2 linked regions of the Homo sapiens genome follow. The protein of the gene in region 2 purifies or fractionates together with the protein of the main gene of each other region. This does not show direct contact. Each region holds a gene or a part of one and is shown on either strand. Other genes may lie near its edges.

Region 1 (7,342 bases), on a different chromosome or scaffold from region 2:
TCTTTCTTTTACAATAAAGAAAATAAAAGTTTTTTTTACAAAAAAAACTTTGTTTTTCTTTTTCTTTCTTTTACAATAAATCTTCTTAAATATTTATTGGCTTAGAGCCACCATGTAATCGAGAGAAAATTCAGAAGCTAACAAAAGGTGCCGTTTCCCTGAGCAGCATTTCAGTGAAGGTTGGCTCAGTCACAAAAAATAGTTTCAATTTTCAGCAGAAAACAAATTACCTTCAAGGTCTCTCGCTCTTTCTGAGTCTTTTGGTTATACCAAGGTTCATCATTGTATGGGGTACTTTGCCAAACATACTTTAGAGTAGTGCATACTGCAGCTTTGGTCAGTAAGATAAATAAATATACAATCAGGAAAGCATTAATAGATCTGAAAAATAAGATAGCATGGATTTTAAAACCAAAGACATCAGTCAGATATGAATTAAACTACTGAGTCATCTAAAGCTTTTTCTGTGTACGACGCGTAACTACAGCACAAGCCTTTGTGTATTAACCTCAGTTATCATAGCTGCAGCATTACTTTCAAGTGGCAAAATGGAAAAGCTGGCCATGAACTGTTTATTGACCACCAATGCTCCCCCAAGTGCAATGGCTGACTAGCTGAACACACCTTATTAAGGTTCCTGTAAAGTGACAGGAGAGGTACACACATGCACACATACACACACCATTACTTACTCAACCCTTATAGAAAGAGTATCTTGTCTCCATTTCCCTGAATCCTAAATGTTTGGGGTAGAGGGCACGGTAGCAATGTGAAATCCTCAAGCTCGGTGTAGGTTCTTTCAGTTTAAAAGTGGAGCTATGGAAAGGGTGCCAGTGATATACTGGTTATCCATGCCAAATACAGGGTGAGGTCTATAGCAGTGGCAACTGGCTTGAGGATCTACGAGGCACTGCTTCAATAGGTGCCAGGAGACTATTATCTATATTATAGAACCAACTTGCATATAGCAACTAAAGGACTCCAAACCATTAACTCCACTAGCAAAAAGGAATGAATTTACAGTTCAAGTAAACTCTGCCCTTTAATAGCTATGTGAGCTTAGGTAAGTCACATACCATCTCCAAGACCATTTCCTCATCTGTAAAGTGGAGAGGTTAACATGAATTACTTCACAGTGTTCTTCAGAGGACTAAACCAAATCAGACATACAAATCATTGAGCACAGTTTCTGGTACATAAACAAGTGCTTAAAATTGTAGTTGCTATTATAATTGATGTTGTTTTTTGTTATGCTTGTTACTTGGAATTACCAAGAAAGTAACTATTTTAATCAATAATGACTAAATAAATTGTGGCGCATACTAACTTTTCAACAGCAGAACGTTTCTGAGATTTCCCTTGGTAGTTCAAAGCCATTTTGGTTTCCATTCCAGTGTAAACAGCAACTCCTAAGAAATTACAGAATATAATAAAAACTAAGAACTTGTCAACCAACTCCTCACCCAGCTGGCTCTATGAATTTTTAAGTCTATAAAAGTGGGAAATCTAGGCCCTCTTCCACTCACCAGTTGTATATCATTTATAGGATAATTTTAATTATATATAGTATTTGTCATATTTCGTCTTAGTTTACCACGTTATAAATTCCCAACACCTAAATGTAGGTTTAAATTAAATGGCAAACCTGCCATGTTTACTTTTTAATATGCACTATTTATTCACAGCCTTTACAAAGCATATTTTTTGATAGGTGTATCTTAAAAATTGTTCACCATATATCTTCTCGGTATTTTTTAGCGTAGCTCCTTTCAGCAAGAGATTTTCAGGTCCCAAAGACCTAAATAAAAAATGAACACAGCTTATCCAAACAAGCCAATAGCATCAACAACTCTGGGGACAGATTTTGCCCTGACACACACCTATCTCCAAGGGGTTCAGAATGTTATCTGTCTACTTATACCATATGCTTACTCCCCAGGACAAGCTGAAAGGTCCTTCACTCTGAAGTTACTTGAGGGTACAGCACAGATGGAAGCACAGTACGGGAGTAGCCAGCAACACACATAGGCAAAAAAAATACATGGGGGGGGATAAAAGGATTATGAATCATGGATAGCAAGACGAGAACAGAACAGAGCAGCAGATCGCAAGACACAAAAGCAGACAGCCATCAATAAAAGACAGGGAATGCAAACGTCAAGGTGGGAAAAATATACTGACATATTTGGAGAGAATAAACCCTCCTTTTGGGGGATCACTGGGGACCCTGTATTTCTTTAACTTTTTGAGTGTGGCTGTAAAGGCCAAGTGGAAAAGTTGCGGTAATTAATATGATGATAGAAGAGGAAAGAAAGCATCCCTTTTTGTATGAACTGCTTGATAAATTGTATGAAGGCTGATACATACAATTCGTATACATAAAACAATTCGTTTTAATGAAGCCTTTCATTTTACGTAAGTCCAGGTAGTTCTTCCAGCATTTTACCCACTGCTTACTTTCTCAATTACTCTCCCACTGTTCTCCAGTTATAATTCCAATGTTGTCAGCCACTTCACAACCGAGGATAATAAATAACATGGCTAGAACAGGTTTGGGAATATAATCCAAAATGTCTGGAGCTCTGCTATTTTGGAAACCATAAGCATTACTTCTAACAGCCCCCTCCCCACAACACAGAGACCCTATCACCACAACTCTACCAATCACAAGGTTAGTTGCTTATTCACCTTTATATTCCTTTTTTTTTTTTTTTTTTTTTTTTTGAGATGGAGTCTTGCTCTTGTTGCCCAGGGTACAGTGCAATGGCTCAATCTTGGCTCACTGCGACCTTCGCCTCCCGGGTTCAAGAGATTCTCCTGCCTCAGCCTCCTGAGTAGTTGGGATTACAGATGTGTGCCACCACGCCCAGCTAAATTTGTATTTTTAATAGAGATTGGGTTTCACCCCGTTGGCCAGGCTGGCTTCAAACTCCTGACCTCAGGTGATCCACCCACCTCAGCCTCCCAAAGTGCTGGGATTACAGGCGTGAGCTACCGCACCCGGCCTATATTCCTTTCTATAATAGAAAGGTATTTGGCTATTTTAGTTGATTTAACAGAAAAATAGACCCCCCCCCCCAACCAAAGGACAAATTAAAGAAACAGCAAACTTACCTGGCAACAGCCTCAAGACTATTACTGTAGATATTGATTCGCCCAACAAATCTGTAAAAAGAACAAAATTGCAAATGTGTTTTCTACATCCAGGTGAAATCCATGTACCAGAAATATGAGAATGAATGAAAATACAAATAATAAAACAGAGATAGATAAAACTGTGAATGAACTACAAAAGCCTATTATATTTCTGGGGGAAAAAAAGTTATGTTGAATTGATAAGGTGTATAACATTTTCATATAATTTTTAAATAACATGATGGGATTATAGGAGCAGAAACAAAGGTTCTCAATTGATTTTCAAGTTCTGTTTAACATCATGCATGCACACAACACCTCTCTCTTTTATAAGTTTATATAAATAACGTAACTTCTATCTTGGATCATGTGAAGAAAGGTTTCTGGTGCTAAAATACAATTTTCAAAACCGCTAGTTCAGTAGTTCTTACACTTGAGTGTGCATCAGAATCACTGGAGCGCTAATTAAACCACAGATTTCTAGGTCCCATCCCTGAGCTTCTGATTCAGGTTCCCCAGTAATGCTGCTGCTGCTGGTCCTGAAACCACTCTTTAAACCATAGTACTAGTCTTAGACAGTGAACACTTGAATGCCATCTTGGAAATGTCCAGCCTGTGACTTGTAGTTGATCTCAATACTGAGCTTGACCCAATCACTTAATATAATAGGTGTATGGTAACCTGTATTTCTGCAAAATAAGGTAAAAATACCTAATCCCTCGTTAACATCAGTGTTTTATAATCTGCATCGTAAACAGCATTTTCCCCAGAAAATAGAAATATATATTACTCATATACACAAAATATGAAGGCTTGCTCATTCATTCATCATATATTAATTGTGCCAGTGCTATACTAAGTGCTGAAGATGTACTAATAAGCAAAAAAGAAATGGCTCCTTGCCCTATAAAAGTAAATAGGCAATTACGACGCAAGTGCTTACCACTAGAGTGATAGAAGTACAAGGTATTCCGAAGTCACACAGCAAGGAATTCAATCGTCTAAGGAAATAAGGAATAACCTTCCCTGTCCTATCATTCTCCTTCATACTTAAAGCAACTGAAAAATGTGGGGATTTCCCTATAAATATGCAAGGGTATAGATATTGTTCTCTAGCTCAGGCAGAATAAGTTACTCCCTTTTCTGTGATTCCATAGACCTTACACTCACCTCTATTATCACCTTGTATAAGCTTAGCTTTATTACTTCATCTCTTGCTCACAGTGAGTCCCTTGAAGGTAGAGAATAACTGTTACACTTTTTGGCCCTAGTTCCTATCATCAAGGTGGATACGGAAGAGGAAGGGAAAGAGGAAAGAAAAAGTGATGAGAAGGAGGGAGGTCATTGTTCTTGAAGTAGAATGAATACTTTGTTTTTCCACTACTAGGTGTTAGTGTAAACCACATCCAACCACTTGGTCACTCATTATGACTAACAGCATGCATTAACAAGATGGGTAATGGATGCCATCTGCAACGGTAGAATAGGATAAAATTAATTAGCCCACGTGGGGATAAAACCTGTTACACTACCCTGATTAGTACTATGCTCTAATCAACCCAACTAACCAGTCTTGAAATCAAACGCCAATTTTTGACAACCCACAATGACTAATAATCAGCAAACCTACTCCAGAGAGCCTAAGTATAGTAAAATAGAGGAAATTACACCATTGTACTCATCCCTTAACTGTTTACTGTGGACAAGAAAGAGCCTATTTGCAATCTTTAGTGCATCATGATCATTCTAAGAAAGGATAGAACCTACTAATTGCATGAAGAGGATATCCCCCTTCTCTCTTTAATGTTAGATGGCATGTAAAAGGATTTGTTTTTTATTTAATTAACTGGTTACTGCATCAGTCTGATAGATCAGCCTTACAGGGTAACATAATCTAAAATTTTGATATATGGCCATGTTTACAAGTAATAAAAATAAAAGAAAAATCATAAGATACCTGGGCCCACAATGATTTATTCTGGGTTGATAGTGAACAAGGCTGATTTGATTCATTTTTCTGCCAGAAGGAAGGAATCGCCCATAAAAACACAAATGAGAGTAGGCTGGTAAGTGGTGGGTGTTTCTTTTGCAATACTATTAGCAAAGAGAAGCAGAGCCAACAAACAGAAGTAAAATGAAACCAGGTGATTCTTACTTGTAGAGGTCAGGTTGAGGCTGTTCACATTCAATTGCTGCTCGGAGGGTATCGATGGATTCTGCTGTACACAGTGCAATGGTATCACGTACTGCATAATGTGTCTAGTTGAAAGCAGAAGAAAAAGTGAAAACCAAAAAAACTTTCTTTTCATAATCATACACCCAACTGATTTCAGAAACAAATTTAGTTTATGTTTTAGTAAGAGGCTTTGGCAGAATAAACAAATATTAACATTTCCCACTAATAAGTTTTATGGTATTATTATGAAAATATATTACAAATAATTAGAAAGATAACCTGCCGCAAGGAGGGTTTCAAAGACAATTAAAAACCTAAAAGCTCTTCTTGACATGGACAGCTGAGAGAATTCTATTCACAACATGCATATAATTAACTAAAACCACGTGAAAAAGTTAATACATTTATTTTTTTTCCTATTTACAGAACTGAGACTTATTATTTTGCTCACTATAGTGTATGGCAATGGAGATATACACATATGAATTGAACATAACCTTTTTGGTCACAAAAATGCTAAAATTTTGCCAACAGCAAGAAAAAAATCATTAATAGTTCCATTACACAAATAGCTTAATTAATGATCTTGAAAATGTTCAATATGGATACATTTTGTACAAGGGGCAGGGAGATGACGTGTCTTGCATTAGTCAGATAATTAGAATATTCTACTAGTGTATATTATGCACTTGATTCATCCAGAACTCAAGGCAGGCGCCAATGAACCCACTTATAAATCATCAAACAAGGGTTAAAGCAGACTCAAAGAGCGCACCACTTAGGCAGAAGGGAAAGCTGTTGTCGTCATCTTGGGGGAAATATTACGGCAATGTCTGAACTATATTTAAAACTATCTCCTGATTTTGAAAACCTCTGTACTTTTAGCTGATTTGATCAGAACAACTTAACTGAAAAAAGAAACTATCTGAAAGTTTTCTTACTCCAAACAACTTTTTCACTATCAGGAAATCTTTATGTAGATTTCTTGATTTATATCTTGACATTCCCTAAATTATAACTTTGTTTTTGAAAAGGTTAAAAGCAGGTCATTACCATGCTTTTGAAATACAGAATTAGTCATCCAACAGGTAAAGGTTCTTTTTTACATACTGAGTCGTAGTCCTCAACTCCAGATGGAATAAACAAACAGAGGAGCCCTCCAAGGACATACCCAGAGGTGAGCCACATGAGTAACCCTCCTTAAAGGCAGCATAGAGAGGATACATCTTCATGCCCTGTGGAGCTCTGGACCATGGCCAAGAAAACCGACTGTGCCAGAAAGTGTATGAGGGAAATAAGTTACCCCCATTTGGCCAAATTTACTTTAAGTCACTTGCAATTATAAATGAGTTATAATTTGTTATATGTACATAAAATGTTGCTTTATAACTTACTTATAAAGCAAACATTTTCCAAACTACACCCTATCTTTTTTTTTTTTTTTTTTTTTTTTTTTTTTTGAGATGGAGACTCACCCTGTCACCTAGGCTGGAGTGCAGTGGCGTGATCTTGGCTCACTGCAACCTCCATCTCCCGGGCTCAAGCAATTCTATTGCCTCAGCCTCCCGAGTAGCTGGAATTACAGGCGCCCACCACTATGCCCGGCTAATTTTTTTGTATTTTTAGTAGAGACAGGGTTTCACCATGTTGGCCAGGCTGGTTTCGAACTGCTGAACTCAAATGATCCGTCTACCTCAGCCTCCCAAAGTGCTAGGATTACAGGCGTGAGCCACCGCACCCAGCCCTAAGTATTATTTTTAAATAGCAATCAAATTACTCCAGGTTGGGTTTCCTACATCCCAAGAATATACATTTTTAATGAAAATATACATTTTAGAAAAAAATAGATCAAATTGTAAGGTTAGCATACATGAAGTTATTTGTATAGTCACACAGTTTAAGCCTATGATTACTCCCATTTTAGAGTCTAAATATTAAATAGGCTGTGTCAATATTAAATTCAAGCAGTGCTATAAAAATTGTGGTAGCTTTTACTTGGGGCTCAGTTTTTCCACACGTAATTACCACCCT
Region 2 (8,170 bases):
TATAAGACATTCTCATGCTTCTCTGTCCCCTCACCCTCAACAAAGAGCATGGCAAGGACTGCAAGTCTGGAATACAACATTCCTTTGCAGTGTGTTCTGAGCCCACGGATGTTTTGGTTTGGCAAACCTTCAGACAAAAAGACAGCAGATCGATCTGGGTGCCCAGCGAGCCCCATTCGCAATGGTGATGCCAGGCCGTCCCACCTCCTCTTCCCGGCCCAATTATCAAATCGAGCTCAACTTCCTAACCTTGGGGCCAGCATCCCCTCATCTTTTACAGTAAGAGAACAATCCGATGCATGTGGTTTATCCTTAGCAGGGGCCTAGGGAAACGCGGCCATGCCAGTCCCCACCCCTCATTTTTCCAACACTTTACTCTCCTTTTCATCTGAGCCTAAAGAGATTGAGATGATTCTCCTCCTACCTCTTTCCCTATTGTTCCTCACTGGGAAATGATTTTTTCTTTTAATCTTGAAGAAACAAAAGGCGCAAGCCTGGGAGGGAGGATGATGCCCCGGGTGGTGTAGTGGATGGGATTTGGCGCTCTCACCACCATGGCCCGGATTTGATTCCCGGTCAGGGAAGCCTTTCTTCTTGCCAGGCGTGGTGGCTCATGCCTGTAATCCCAGCACTTTGGGAGGCTGAGGCAGATGGATCACTTGAGGTCAGGAGTCTGAGACCAGCCTGGCCAACATGGTGAAACCCTGTCTCTGCTAAAAATACAAAATTAGCTGGGCATGGTGGTGCATGCCTGTAATCTTAGCTACTCAGGAGGCTGAAGCAGGAGAATCGCTTGAACCCAGGAGGTGGAGGTTGCGGTGAGCTGAGATCACACCACTGCACTCCAGCCTGGGCAAAAGAGCAAGACTCTGTCTAAAAAAAAAAGAAGAAGAAGAAGAAAAAGAAACAAAAGCTGGCTTCTCGGTGTTCAAAAAAAATAAAAATGAAAATTTTTAAAAGCTCAAGGTATTGCTAGACAATATGGCTCCTTGCACAGACACACTAGCACCCCTTTTCTCAAGACATTTTAGTACCATCTTCAAGAACTTTGTTGCAATAAACACACAAATTTCTAGGACATTAATAGTGACCCCCTTAGACGTGGTGCATTTGTGCAGTGCACAACCTGCACACCCTTACGCATTGGCCCATGACACCAGAGACTACATTATGAGCCTTACACTGGTCTGATTTTAATTTAAAAGCTGGAAAGGTGACAGATGGGCATCTGATGAAAGTTGTAGGTAGGGATGGAGATTACATGAACCCTCTGCTTTGTGCAGGAGGAACATCATCTCTGGATGCTCCCAGCTATTGATCCCCGTTTACTCCTAAAATGGATGGAATAATTTCAGGACTGCATTTAAGGGGAGCTAAAAACTTAGGGACCTCAGTGCCTCCTTTCATCACCCGTCATTGTGTTCCCCCAGCAAGGGCAGGCAGTGGAGGTTTGAGTGAGACTTTTGCACTCTCTGCGCTGCCTTGATCCTTGGCTTCACTCTAGGGAATGCCTACATCAAAGGGTCCCCTCCAAGTGTCGTTCTGGGAGTTTTGGCTCTCGTCTGGTACCTTTTTATCTGACTGTTTACCAAACCAAAGAACTCAGTAGGCTCAGAACTCACTGCAAAGGAACATTCTGTTCCAGACTTGCAGTCCTTGCCACTCTCTTCGTGGGGGGGTGAGGGGACAGAAAAGCATGAGAATGTCTTGTAGAAGTCCTCAGTGAGGGCACTGCCCAATTACATAATCTTGAGGTGCCAATTATTTATAACATTAAACTGCCTATGCGTAGATCAATATCAAGCAGCAATCAAATGAAACAGTGTTATAATTTCTGATTAAAACAACACAAATTTAGAAATACCAACAAATGCAAGGTATTGTAGAAAAAATATGAAAATTGTGTTTTATCCATAGTTGCATTCTCCTTTCTCCATTTTGTCACCTAGTTCTTATGTCCTCTTACGTATATTTGATGAACTGCCTCAAAATCTTTCTGGAAAGAGAGGTCCATTAGGAATGGAGAGAGCTATTGGATCCTGACTTCATCATCCGGTACCTTCCGGCCCAGATGGGACTGTGCATCGTAAGATATATTCTAAAAAATAAGACAGTACCAGAACTGTTGCAGAGCTAGGCGGCATGATTTCATGGCCAGTGAGGAATAGAGATGTAAACTGCTTTAAGTGCACAGAAGCCCACTGCGAAATCCAAATAGATTTGGGCAGAGTATGAGGAGGGGGAGGAGAGAGAAAACATTCTAGGGGCAGAAACTCCAAGAAGAAAGTCGAAGAGGAGAGCAGCTTTATGTAGGTTCATTTGTGATTGTTCCAGGCAGAGAGATGGAAGGTGCATTCACTTGGTATGGGAACAGAGAGGGGCACCCAAAGAGGAGATGCAAGGGAAAGACCAAGGAAAGGCAATGTTAGGGCATACTCAGCAAATGACTCTCTGGAAATAATAAAGGAGCTACTGTAGAAAGAACAGAGAAAAGTTCATTGTATTGTGCAATTAGGCTGTTAAAAGCACCGAGAACACATGTATGCACGCAATGAGTGCCCAGTTGTCTACAGCAACAGGGTGGCAGCGGACCCTGGCATCTCAGAATCCTGCAGTATGAGAATTTGGCAAGCCCTGCATCAGAAAGCTACCTAGTTCACAGTTCTTGAATGAAGCAAATGGTTTCCTCTGTACTCATAACTGCACCCCTTCTGATGTCAAAGCAGGGAGAAGTTTGTCCCCTTATTCAAGCCAGGAGGAAGGTTCCATTTGGAAACCCCCAAGGTAAACCAGTGCTGATTGAGAGGGGCTGACATCAGAATGGGGGCACCTCTACATGTTCGGCACGGTGCTTTGAAGATGTCATCCCTCATCACAACTTTATAAAGGAAGAAAAGTTACCCCACTTTACACTGAGGAATCTGAGGCTCAGAAACTGTGAGTAACATGCCTAAGGTCATACAGCTTGTCAGAGAAAAGCTAGTATTCAAACTCAGGTTTATCTGACTTGGAATTCCATGTGCCTTGTGCTGCCTTGTGCATACAATATGGCAAGGCTGTAATTTGTGGCCCCCCACTTAAGGTGTGGCTTTACAGGGACCAGGAGAAAGGCCAGGGAGGGAGGGTGGGTACAGAAAGAGGTGGTTTTTCCAAGGAGGTCTGAGATTCACTACACACCTTCAGCCCTGACCAGTGCGACTGAGGCAGAAGGCTCCATGGGTGTCATGTGGAGGCAGCTTCAGGATGAGGTCCATAAATATGCATCATGGCCAAGTTGAGTGAAGGAATTAATGAAAAGCAAACATACAGGCAGAAGTTGGAAATATTGGACAGCACTGGAGTGGCTAAAAGTACAAACTTTGAGTCAGACTTTGAGCAAGTTATTTAAACTCTGAGCCTCAGATTGCTCATCTACAAAATGGGGACAATAGTATAATATAGGAATTTTGCAAATGCTCTACCATTTGTGGCAGTTATTATTCTCATTACCATCATTAGCATGATTATTTCTATCAGGGACAGTGGTCCATTTGCATAAGGAAGTCATGGAGACACTAGTATGATTCCTTTCATTCCCAAAGCAGGCCACTCACACTGTCTCCTGAAGATTCATTTTTCTCCTTCAGGGAAACCCGAGGAGCTTATTTTCTCCTTATTTTACCAGGGAAAAAATGTTGGAAGGAGATTTGCCTGAACCTGGAAACTCTTATTATGAACCTAGACCTATACACACCCTACCTCAGCTGCTCGGGAGGCACTTGGAGGAAGGATGTCCCAAGCCGGCAAGAACCCTGTGGTCTGGCGGGTGTCCAGCGGGTGGAGCCAGAGAGCTCCCAGCCATGGGCCACCTAGCTGAAGGCTGATAAGTACTATCTGCACATCCAAGCAGGCAGGAGACCCAGATAAAAGACCTATGACATCTGCATGGCTGGCTGTGGGATTACATATATATATTATATATATATTTAAAAGTATATGTATATATGTATATATATTACATATATACACACATATATATCTACACATATGTAATATATGTATATATGTATATTTATTATATGTATATATCTACATATATACATGTATGTATGTAATATAGATGTATATATGTTACATATATACACACATATACATATATACACATATATTTTTTTAAAATTCTGCACTCATAAAAGTAGATTTGAGTTAGATTTTTGCCATAACAGAACAAGCCACAAAATTGAAATTTAAAAAGAAGGGGGAAGGAGGAGATATTTTAATTCAGTTTTAGATTTCCCTGCTATAGAATGTTTGCTTCCTGACTTTTAAAGAGGCAGCAGAGTATGTCCAAGAATTCTCACCTGGGAAGACAGACATTCCAGGGAAACACTGATATTTTTGTTTTCTCCTCACTGGGAAAAAGGCAGCTGGCCTTCAGAAAACAACTTGCATGTACCTTATCTTCCCCACCCTCCCAACAGCCCCTCAGGCCCTTGCTGGAGTCTTACATCTGTGTAGAAGTTGTGCCAAGTCTAAGAAAATTTCACCCCAGGAGCAGTCGCTTAGCTTCCGAGTCCACACAGCAGCAACCTGCCCCATGGTTTTTAGTTTGACACCGTGTTGATCCTTTTCAGTTGTAAATCTTTCCAAAAATATGAGTAGGGGCCAGAGGAAACAGGAGAAGAAAAAGATGCATTTTGGTAGGATTATTGCTGGTCAAAGACCTTGGAATGCTGTGGAAACTGTGGCAAAGCAGTTGGTACTCTGTCAAGAACAGAGAGAGAGACATCGGGTACTGAAGCCAGGGGACCAGTTCCTTGGTGTTGCTTTGGCATTGATGCCTGAAGTGGGAGGAGAAAGCCGAGCCCACAAACACACAGAGCAGAGTGGGGCTCTGAGTATATAACTGTTAGGTGCCTCCCTCCAGCACCATCTCCTGAGAAGCACTCTCCCTTGTCGTGGAGGTGGGCAAATCTTTATCAGCCACTGCCTTCTGCTGCCAGGAAGCCAGCTAGAGTGGTGTAAGTACTCATCCTTATTTCTATTCATTTCCAACTATTCATCATTTGGGGCTTGTCTTCACAGTTCTAAGTTTTGCTCTTTTTCTTAATGAAGAAAATGTTTTATATCACCGGAATTGATCAGAAGTAGCAAAATCAGAGTTCTGGTAGACTAGAAAGCAATTTACCAAAGCCACAGGCTTCTTCCTGGAAGCTCAAAGGCATGCCTTTATTCGTGATTTCTGAAGCAAGGTGCATGCAGCACCTGAGCTGATGTGGAAGAGGGTTTGCAGGGAGGTGTCCACCCAATGTGCTCAATGATTCTGGGTTAATCAACACTATTAGGAGTTTCAGGTTGTGTTCTTGAAATAATAATTTGGGCTGTGTTCTTGAAATAAGTTCGAGGCGAGTGTCTACAAGACTCAAAAGAAAAAAGTGGGCCACTGGGAATGGCCCTTTCCAGTGATGGATTTATGGACTCCTCTGTGTGTGCTGTCATGCTGAAGGGAATGTTCTTGTGCACCCATCGGGAGAACAAGTCAGTCACAACTGAAGCCACGAATTTGGCAGCTTCCTTGCAGCTGCACTCTCTGGAGTCTGGAATCAAGACTTCTGGGAGTAGTGTTTTCCAAGGAGGGAAGTGTTTTAACCAGGACACAGGAATATCTGACAGCATTTTCTTTGTTTCCAATTACAGCTTTAAAGAAAACTGGGCATCTCCTGCTACTTAAAATCAAAAACTACCTAAAATAAAGATTATAGTAAGTACCAAATAAGTGTCAATGCTGAAAGTCTCTTTATTATGCTAGACCATGAGTGTTTAAATGCTTTCTTCTATATCCATATCCAACACTTCATATTATTTTTAAAAGTAATAGCTGAAGCATGGAAAATTGAAGACTTCAGGTCTCTCCAATTGCACAAATTTCTAATACATGCTGGCAATAGAATATATTTTATTTCGTGTAATAAAATAGAGGATATTAGTTGACCTGAAATCTTGATATTGCCTTGTATTAAAATGCTAAGCACTGCTTCATTTTACTAGTGATCTGGGGTATGAAAAGTGCTTTTTGACTTCTGCTGGAAAGCTCTTCAGGTGCAGCTTCCAGGATATTCTTGGGATGTTAACTTCAGCACACATAAGCCTTGCTGTAGATGTGTCAGCTTTGAGGCACAGGGAGACATTTGTTTGTCAGAGAGTAACTGCTTCTGGCAAGGGCATAGGGTGAAACTGGGGATAGCAGAGCTCTTTCTTTGTGGTTGTTCAACCCCCACCCCAAGATTAGTTCAAAGTGACCGTGAAGATAGTCTGTGCCCACCGCATCGCTAAGTCCTAGCCCTCTCTGCATACTCCAGCACACAGAAACTGCTGCTTCACTTGTTTGTTGACTTGAACCGAACCTTGGGTGGCATTAATGTGCCTGGCCCAAGACTGAAAAATTAAGAACCACCAGAGCTGACCTATTCCATAAGACCCAGTCTGCCTGCCACGTACTGAGTGAATCTGGATGATGCCCACTCTGATCCTTGGTTTTCTCTTCTATAAAATGAAGGCTTGAACTACGTGGTCTCTAAAATCCTACCTAGCTCTCAAATTTCTCTTGGTTCTAGGAAAATATTGATGTTGAGCTCAAGGAAGGGGTTCTCCAAGGTGTGTGATTTTGGTGGTAGAGGAAAGGCCGGTGCCAGGCAGGGGCAGAAGGAGACGCTGTCTACACTGAGAAAATGTGACAACCCCTGCTTGTCTCTTTTTTCATTCTTCATTGTTTCTTATTTCTTTGTTTTTAGCTTTATATAACATGAGAGCCCTACCACTGGGTTTCTTAACCATTTGTTCTTTATCAAATAAAAATATTCATAATGCAACATGCAGGCACATCAGTGTGGTACAGAACTAGCCAGCTAGTTTACTATAGGTAAATATACACACATGCATGCACACACACAATTTTTACCTGAGACATGTCAGAAGTGTTTCCTAAAATTGTGGATTTTTCTGAGTCATTCTGGTAAAGGGTAGGTTTTCAGGTTTTAGGCCAAGCCAGAAGAAGAAAGTAAAAACAGAATAAACAACAGGGGGAGAAAAAGAGAAATACCACACACACAACTGGAACTTCTGGTAAAAGAGTGATATTCTTGGATGCAATGGAAGTTTTAAAAAGGAAAAAGAAAATTTATAAAAAGCTGCCACATTTGTGGAATTCAACTAAAAACTGTTTATTATTAACAAAGTGATGTTCAAAATTTAAGAGTTCTTGGCCTGGCATGATGACTTATGCCTGTAATCCCAGTGTTTTGGGAGGCTAAGGTGGGAGGATCACTTGAGGCCAGGAATTCAAAACCAGCCTGGACAATACAATGAGACTTTGTCTCTAAAAAAAAATAAAATAAATTAAAATAAACACAGCTGGATGTGGTGGCACAGGAAAAAAAAATACCATTTAGGAGTCTCTTAAAGGCAGCTTGTGAATGCTTACAAAGCGTGGCTAGTATCTTATTACAGAAAACAGAGCCCACATCATGCATCCTTCTTCTCACATTTCATAAACAAGGCCAAGGGAAACTGCTGTGGGGCAACCTGTTGCTTTGGTGTTGGTCCCCAAGATGCAGCCCTCACAATCTGCCCCCAAACGTGTCAGAACATGAACCCCCTCCTCCCCCTCTGGAAGAAGCAACCTCAGATCCAACAGCAGAGACACGCAGCAGAACAAAATCTGGGCATTGGTCCCTGTGTAGGATGGCTTCCCGTTATTTTTTTTTTAAGCAAAGTAAATGAACATCAAATTTCCATAGTCAGCTGCTGTCTTTCTGCCCACTGAGAGCTCTTTGGTGAAGGCAAAGTCCTCCTTCTTCATTAGCGGTCTCCCATGTGGGGCCACATCTTCCCTCACCAGGAACCCAGTGGGCGCGCTCCAGCCCCCCTCAGCTTGCCTTTTGCGTGGTCATTAGAGCTAGGGCACACGTCATGCTGATTCACATATTTTTGCCCTTTGTCATGTATTGAGAAAAAGTAAGGATGAATGGACGGTCTTTGATTGGCGGCGCTGGTGACGCCCGTCATGGTCCTGTTTGGAAGGACCCTTTTGGAACTAAAGCTGGTGACGCAGCGCGCAGAGGCATCGCCCGGCTAAGCTTGGCCCTGGCAGATGGGTCGCAGGAACAGGTATGCTTCCTTCGTGCAGCCTCTG

The links.
Region 1: the proteins of SLC14A1 (region 2) and ATP11C purify together in Homo sapiens (affinity purification with mass spectrometry; 2 studies listed by BioGRID and IntAct, with this or other methods). This does not show direct contact.

What each region holds. Positions count from the first base shown.
Region 1 is NC_000023.11:139,796,946-139,804,287, forward strand, and holds part of ATP11C (phospholipid-transporting ATPase IG), read right to left. Parts: intron 5,395-7,342; coding exon 5,291-5,394; intron 3,166-5,290; coding exon 3,115-3,165; intron 1,799-3,114; coding exon 1,734-1,798; intron 1,410-1,733; coding exon 1,328-1,409; intron 382-1,327; coding exon 231-381; intron 1-230. UniProt on the Homo sapiens protein: Catalytic component of a P4-ATPase flippase complex which catalyzes the hydrolysis of ATP coupled to the transport of aminophospholipids, phosphatidylserines (PS) and phosphatidylethanolamines (PE), from the outer to the inner leaflet of the plasma membrane.
Region 2 is NC_000018.10:45,719,274-45,727,443, forward strand, and holds the start of SLC14A1 (urea transporter 1), read left to right. Parts: upstream 1-4,907; 5' UTR 4,908-5,000; intron 5,001-5,676; 5' UTR 5,677-5,740; intron 5,741-7,679; exon of another isoform or gene 7,680-7,998; coding exon of another isoform or gene 7,999-8,145; exon of another isoform or gene 8,146-8,170. UniProt on the Homo sapiens protein: Mediates the transport of urea driven by a concentration gradient across the cell membrane of erythrocytes.